Linked DNA regions of Homo sapiens. The protein of the gene in region 2 purifies or fractionates together with the protein of the main gene of each other region. This does not show direct contact. Each region holds a gene or a part of one and is shown on either strand. Other genes may lie near its edges. The genes, in order: BLVRA and ASIC5.

Region 1 (4,480 bases), on a different chromosome or scaffold from region 2:
TGTTTAGGAAATGCCACAGTGGCACATGACCTGCGTGGGCTCCAGCAGCAGCAGCAACCTGCAGGGTAGATAGGGCAGCTGAGAACACGAGAGCAGAAGGGCGGTGACTCTATCATCTCGGAGGGTTCTGTTCAAACAACATTTTCTAGTATACAATGAAAAGAGACCTGGTGCCAGGCATGGTGGCTCATGCCTCTAATCCCAGCACTTTGGGAGGCCGAGGCAGGTGGATTACCTGAGGTTGGGAGTTCGAGCGAGACCAGGCTGGCTAACGTGGCGAAACCTCATCTCTACTAAAACTACAAAAATTAGCCAGGATTAGGCACGCGCCTGTAATCCTCAGCTCCTTGGGAGACTGAGGCAGGATAACTGATTGAACCCAGGAGGTGGAAGCTGCAGTGAACCGAGATGGTGCCACTACACTCCATCCTGGGTGACACAGTGAGACTCTCAAAAAAAAAAAAAAAAAAAAAAGAGGCCTGCTAGTACTCATCTCATAGGGCTGTTAGGAGGAGTAAGTGAAATCAGACATACAAAGCATTTAGCTCAGCTCAACCAACGCTCATTCTCGCCTTGTCCCCACTGCATAGCCCCTAACCCCAAATATCCCAACATAGCTCATAACAATAAGATTCTTGTTTCCCCAACATGTTTAATTTTAAGAATAGAGATAATGGTCAACTCTTGAGAAGAACCAAATGCTGGTGCCATCTTGGAAGTGCTACATCACCTCCTCCTCTTACTTCCTTGAACAGCAATATTTCTGGATTTCTTCTGCAAGCCCCAGGCAGTGCAGGATGCGTTTCTTTTCAGCAGCCAGTTCCTTCTCAGAGAACTGGCCCAAGAGTTTCTGGACAAATATATTTTGATCTTTCAGAAATATGTTCTTATTCACTCCTACATTTGGCACATTCTCCAAGGACCCAGACTTGAAATGGAAGCTTAAATATCTGTTTCGTTTTAGACCAGGTCCTTTTTCTTCAATCCATGACAGTGGACTGCAAAGACAAAAGACAAAAGAATCATGTTAGAGATTACACAAGAGCACAAGTGGGTGCTTGCTGGCACCAGACCGCCTGGTAACATGTCCTTGTCAGGCACCCATCCTCCTTGCAGCCACCAGCCTCCCAGAGGCTGTGGGTGACTGTGTCAACCTCACAGCCAAACAGTCTTTAATTTAATTTTGCCATCAGGCAGGGGAATTCATTCAGTGACTTTTTTTTTTCTGGGATGGAGCCTTGCTCTGTCACCCAGGCTGGAGTGCAGTGGTGCAATCTCGACCCACTGCAACCTCTGCCTTCTGGGTTCAAGCAATTTTCCTGCCTCAGCCTCCCAAGTAGCTGGGATTACAGGCGCCTGCCACCATGCCTGGCTACTTTTTAAAAAAATATTTTTAGTAGAAATGGGGTTTTGCCATGTCAGCCAGGCTAGTCTTGAATTCCTGACCTCAAGAGACCCACCTGCCTTGGCCTCCCAAACTGCTGGGATTACAGGCGTGAGCCACTGCACCTGGCCTCCCATGACTAGTTTTAAAAGCTCATAGTACAGTCTAGCAAATGTTCTGGGAGATGGCAACAAAGATTAACTTTTATTTTGGCACTGAATAAAAATAAACTTGAGGTATTCTACGTAGTCTGCCTAAGAAAATTTCTCATGTCTTTTTTTTGAGATGTTTGCTCTTGTTGCCCAGGCTGGAGTGCAGTGGTGCAATCTCGGCTCACTGCAACCTCTGCCTCCAGGTTCAAACGATTCTCCTGCCTCAGGCTCCCCAGTACCTGGGATTACAGGCACCTGCCACCACGCCTGGCTAATTTTTGTATTTTTAGTAGAGACAAGGTTTCACCATGTTGGCCAAGCTGGTCTTGAACTCTCAACTTCAGGTGATCCAACTGCCTTAGCCTCCCAAAGTGCTGGGATTACAGGCGTGAGCCATTGTGCCCGGCCTCTCATGTCCTTTTAAATAATATGGAATCTTGGGATTTGAGGGAATGCAGAATGTCAAGATCTTTCTTGTACCTCAATTTCCTCACTAGTAAAAATAAGTAATGGTAATAAGTATACAGCTTTACCTATCTTGCTGTGACATTGTGAGATAAAAATGCAGTTTGTGGCCAGGCGTGGAGGCTGATGTGGGTGGATCGCTTGAGCCCAGGAATTTGAGACCGGCCTAGACAGTATAGCAAAAACCCATCTTACCCAAAAATACGAAAATCAGCCAGTCTCATAACCCGGTCTCAAAATAAATAAATAAATAGATAAAAAAATTTAAAAATGCAATTTGGGACACGGAAAGTACTATGATTTTAAGAAGTTACTATTATATTATATTAACTGCTCTCTGTCCCAATCCCTCATCTGATGCTTGCCTCTCCTGTGCAAAAATGAGAGCCAGGGCTGGGTGCAGTGGCTCATGCGTGTAATCTCAGCATTTTGAGAGGCCAAGGTGAGCAGATCACTTGAGGTCAGGAGTTCAAGACCATCCTGACCAACATGGTGAAACCTTGTCTCTACTAACAATACAAAAATGAGCCGGGCGTGGTGGCAGGCGCCTATAATCCCAGCTACTCGGGAGGCTGAGGCAGGACAATCACTTGAACCCGGGAGATGGAGGTTGCAGTGAGCTGAGATCACACCACCGCACTCCAGCCTGGGTGACAGAGCAAGACTTTGTCTCATAAAAAAAAAAAAAAAAGAGAGAGAGAGTCAGCCTCTGCCTCCCCAACATCTTGCTTCCTCATTGACTTCTACTCAACTTCAAGACCAAACAAGGCACCGCCTCCCATCAGAACCATGAGCTGACCTAGTCCAGGTTCCCCTTCCCTGTGCTCCTACAGCACCCTACAGTATCTTTACCTCTAATTACAGGGTGCTACAACTGTCTGTGTATAGGTCTGACCACGGCTGCAATCCTAACACTCACATGGCCACACCAGAGCCCGGGCCACCACTGTTGGTCACTCCATAGGGAGCACTGCCAAGTTCCATGTGCTTTGCTTTCATCTGCCAGGCCTCTCTGCCTTTTCCTAGCGAAGAAGAAACTCCTCAAAATGGACTAGATCAGGCTTCATTCAGGAACTCAAATTCTTTTTTCTTTTTAAAATACCCAGTGTCTGCTTCTTTTACTACCAGGAGACCCACCTCTCTGCAAAGGCATCCAGAAACACTCTAAAACCCTTACTGTTCTAAATAATTTACAGAGCCCAGGTGCTTTGGGAGGAAAATTATGAATGTGCTTTTGTTAAAAAAGACCTGGTATGAGAAATAAGTCAGAATGTTTTGGGAACAGTGTGACAGGGTGATGGGATGCTAAAGCTGAAACACAGACCCTCACACTCTGGCTGCACTGAGGGGTGAATGTGTGGCCCTGCGGGGAACATGTACAGTGTTAATGGCAGGGTCTAGGGAGTAGGTGGATGGGTGTTTACTTAAAAATTCTTTCAACTTCACAATATGCCCGAAAACTTTCATAAGAAAACACAGGAAAAAAATCAGGTCACAGAGTTAACATAATTTCTTTTTCTTTTCTTTTTTTTCAAGAAGGAGTCTCGCTCTGTTGCCCAGGCTGAAATGCAGTGGCCTGATCTCAGCTCACTGCAACCTCTGCCTCCCAGGTTCAAGCAATTCTCCTGCCTCAGCCTGCCAAGGAGCTGGGACTGCAGGCATGCACCGCCACACCGGCTAATTTTTGCATTTTTAGTAGAGACAGGGTTTCACCATGTTAGCCAGGCTGGTCTCAAACTCCTGACCTCAGGTGATCCACCACCCTTGGCCTCCCCAAGTGCTGGGATTATAGGCCTGAGCCACCACGCCCAGCCAAGGTAATGTAATTTCCACTACTAATCTGCTATGAATGACTTGCATGACTTAGGCAACCTGCTGGCATTCTGTAAGCCTCTGTCTACTGACTGGCAGATGGGATTATGTTTGTCTTCTTTACCTCACAGGGCTGCTGAGAGGATGAGATGAGGCAACACAAGTGCAATCTCAGCACTCCATCTGCAGAAGCAGACAGCCCTTCTGGAGCTGGGAGTGAGGGTCTAGCCCCTCGGGGCTCCCTTTGGATCATACCTGCAAATGTACTAGGATGTCCTTAAATTTCCTCCTCCTCATGGCTTCTCATGACTTACCTTTTCTTCTCTGTCTCCAGACACACTGTCATTTTCATATACTGATCTTCCTTTCGCTCTTCCAAAGTGGCAGACACAAGAGAAAGCTCCCCAAAGAGGGAGACCAGCCAGGTCAGGCGAGAGATGCCGCTGAATGCAGGGAAGCCAAACCGCTCTTCTTCCAACGGGCCAGCTGTGGGAAATCACAAATGCTGTGGGAACTGGGAAGCAGGAATGCCAAGTGGAAAGCAGGACAGGGGGGTGGGGGTGGCGGGGGTGTGAAAAGATGTGGCCGAGTGATCAGTACAATGGGACCTTGCCTTATGTGGTAGGCAGGCAACGTGATTAATGATACTGATGAAAACTCAGGTGGC
Region 2 (3,817 bases):
AACTATTCACAATAAACTTGTTTTATTTGTGAAACAATAAAAAGCAGCTAGGATATTTTGATTATAAAAAAGAACAAAATTTAAAAATTTAGATGTGTCTTAATATCAGAGGGTTTTTGTTTGTGTATACTGCCTGTGTTTGTTAGCTACTATTTAAGAACACTTACAAAAAGATCTTCTCTTATATACTATATTCTGTTTAATTTCTGGGCTATCCATAGTTTGACTTAATGTCTTATATTACTTTGAGCAACTTTAATATAAATCCTGAAAATAAAAGTAAATTAAGCACTTACCAAGTACAGGAGAAACACAGCTGAAGTACTTTTGTAGGTCACATTCTATCCCATATCCTTAAAAATAATAAGTGTAACATATAGAGACTTTACATTTTGTAAAATAAGTGATCTAATGACAAAAATACCTTTCTTACCTACATCTATCCATCCATTCATCCACCCACCCATTCTTCTATATGAACATCTATTCTTTCATAAGCAAAACTATGGAATCAAGTTAGTATCCAGTGAAAATATGTGTTGGGAGGAAGAATAATGCTTTTGTTTCTTTCCATACCTCTTTCCATCTGTCTATATCACTCTAAAATCTTTAAGCGGGAATAATAATTTTCAAATGTGAGTAGTTTTCAAATTTAAAATTACTTTCACAGTTATCATCTCATTTGATATGGTTCACAATCCTGTCATATGAGAATTTTCATTTTACAGATAAAGAAACTAAGCCTCAGAAAGAGTGGCTTGCTCAAGACCACACAGTTAGGGGAAACTTGGCACATTCTGTACATCTTCCATCCTGCTCCCTCTATCCATTTACACACACACACACACACACACACACACACACACACGTTCCTGACAGACTGCCATTCCAGAAGTAGGATGGGGAGGGGGCAGGTAAGTACCAATATTTGTTAAGTACCCACTATAGATTGTGAGATAAGTAGAAAATCACTATGTATCAGAGCTGGGTTTACTCCTACGGCTGATTCTAAAGACTTAGTCTTTTAGCCTTAATACAATATTTGTCTATTGCTATAGCCCATGTGACTCAGCAGTTAGCCACAATGTTTAGTCAGTAATCTTGAAAATAACCAAAGGAGATTGTCCACTTACAACGTGCGGACAATTTGTGGAATGTTTGGCTAACTGTAAGGAAGTGCTCTTTATGAATAAAATACAATAAGTAAAAAAAAAAAACTACCTCCAACACTGAGTTAGGAAAAAACCTCATTTTTCTGAATTATTTCTTGCTCTGGCAATAATATTTCTTCCATTATAAAGAGCAATTCAGAAAAAAAAGATGGTAGATGGAACACAGAAAACAAAAATAAAAACAAACAAACAAAAGAACAATGAAATTTTGGAAATAACCAATATCTGAAAAGCTGTTTTGGAGATTGCTTCCTCAAATTGTTAGTGGAATTACCTCAGCGAATTTGTTTAACGTTTAGAATCTTCCGTTTATTCATATATCAGTACACTTAAAGGGATGTGTGAGAATCTAACCAAATAAGATCATATTCCTGAATGCATTTGATATATATGCTAAAGTTCATGCAGATATCATTCTTTGTGTTTTATATAGCACCTTGCCTAGTTTCTGGTCCACATTAGCCAGTAGGTTTTGGTTTAATAATCATAACTTTTAAAATTGTCAACATTATTCTGCATGAAACAATTCAGACTTCTTTCCAGCAACTTTGCCAATAAATTAGGAATGAGAAATCAGAGCCAGAGCCAGCAGTTTTATATAGAACAGCAGTTTTTGCAGTGGCCAGAGATCAATAATCTGGATACTAAAAAGAAGGATGTGATGATTATGGAAACCTCTGGAAAATAATGAAACCACTTTTGCAAAATTTATATCTTTTTTACTTTTATTATTTTTTATATTATATATAATATAATATATATTTTTTATATTTTATATATATTTTATATTTATACATATTTTATATTTATATTTTATATATTTTTTACTTTTATTATTACATTGAAAGAGATTTGACCTAACTGACTCCATCTTGTTTCTAACCTCCAAGCTGTCCTTGTTCATTCTTGGGCGTTCGCTGAACTAACTTTGGGAGGAACTTAGTTTATGGTTTAGCTCTGAAACAAAGACAATAACAGCCCTTTCCCAAAATAAACTCCCTTCCTGCCTGGGGACTAGATTGCCTATATAGGGCTAACAAATTAGCCACAAGATTAGAAATTATGTTTAGGGGTCATGCAGCTGGAGGGTGCAAGATTCTAAACCGCCCCAAATTGCTTATAGTGATAACATTACTATTGTAAAAGCTAAGATCAGTGCTTGAGATATGTTGCAGACCCTGCCTCCAATGATCAGCTGGCACCACCCAGAACAAAAATCTGGCCCATCTGGTTTTGTGACCCCTACCCAGGAATTGACTCAGCGCAAAAAGACAGCTTCAACTCCACATGATTTCATCTCTGATCTCACCAATCAGAACCCCTGATTCACTGGTTCACTGGTCCCCTACCCACCAAATTATCCTTAAAAACTCTTATCTCCGAATACTCAGGGAGACTGATTTGAGTCATAATAAAACTCCAATCTCCCGCACAGCCAGCTCTGCATGAATTAGTTTTTCTCTATTGCAATTCCTTTGTCTTGATAAATCAGCTCTGTCTAGGCAGCAGGCATGGTGAGCCCGTTGGGCAGTTACAATATTTTGGCAGGTAGATTGTGTTACAATATATCTTTCTAGATATGCTGTGGGAGGGGGATGTAAGAGACCTGAATACAAATATCTGACATTTACATAGACTATATTCTGTGCCAGGCACTATTTGAACCACTTACATACCCCTTTCATTCTTACAACAACCCTATAAGATGGGATTATTATCCCCTCCTCCATTTGACAGCAGAGGAGAGAGGTTAGGTCACTTGTTCAAGATCACCTAGGGGAGAAATTGTAGAGCCGACATGAGCAGCCTGGTTGAGATCCAGCTCTTATTCACCCTGCTCCATTGCTTCCTTGAATGCTTGCCTCTCACCCATGGTTCTGGAAAAGTTGCAAATTGTATGAAAAGGAGGCCTGAAGTTAATTTTACAGTCCCAAAGAAAATAACTTTTCAACAGTGAAATCTTCAGGCTTGGTAAGACATATCCATGATCTAATTTTTCTTTCAAAATTAAGAAAATCTTGGTGTGCTGTTTTAGATATTTGAGACCATCAAATTTTAGCCTTTGGGAGTAAGTATTGGGGCCCCACCCTGATATCGCAATTTTCTCTTCCAGAAATCTCTGCGATGATTTTATAATGTAAAATTTGTCAGTCGAAGTTGTACCTGGCAAATGGATAATTTTCCAGTGTAGAATTTCAGAAGAATGGAAAACAATTTAGTGATATGTTGATTTGCTATGTTTCAAATTAAGTAAATATAAACATAAAATTCAAAGAAATTTAGGACTAAACTTCTGGTGACTTTGTTATTAGTTGTCATTTTAGTCTGCAAAGAGAAGGAACAGGCTTAAGAATATAATAATTTTTCTGTGAATGGGTCAGCAACATCTGTAATTACACTTAATAATACTTAATATTCCATTTGTATTTCAATACTCTATTTCTCCCAGACCTTTTGTAACCCTCTAAGAAACACTTAACTGTCTAGTTAAGTAAGGGGGCAGTTAGTCTTTATTTACCAGGAAGAAGAAAAGGCACACATCCACATTGCTTTTTTATGTGCTGGGCTTTGCATTCCTTCAAGCAACCAGAAGTGCTGTAGCTGCTAAAATTCTGCAGCTTGATGTTAGGATTGCATTCTCCCCA

What was found.
Region 1: the proteins of ASIC5 (region 2) and BLVRA purify together in Homo sapiens (affinity purification with mass spectrometry; one large-scale study listed by BioGRID and IntAct). This does not show direct contact.

The regions. Positions count from the first base shown.
Region 1 is NC_000007.14:43,803,495-43,807,974, reverse strand, and holds the end of BLVRA (biliverdin reductase A), read right to left. Parts: intron 4,300-4,480; coding exon 4,128-4,299; intron 999-4,127; coding exon 740-998; 3' UTR 633-739; downstream 1-632. UniProt on the Homo sapiens protein: Reduces the gamma-methene bridge of the open tetrapyrrole, biliverdin IXalpha, to bilirubin with the concomitant oxidation of a NADH or NADPH cofactor. Does not reduce bilirubin IXbeta.
Region 2 is NC_000004.12:155,838,517-155,842,333, forward strand, and holds part of ASIC5 (bile acid-sensitive ion channel), read right to left. Parts: coding exon 3,691-3,817; intron 354-3,690; coding exon 297-353; intron 1-296. UniProt on the Homo sapiens protein: Forms bile acid-gated sodium channels and may play a role in bile acid-dependent absorption and secretion by epithelial cells of the bile ducts. Displays high selectivity for sodium ions but can also permit the permeation of other cations.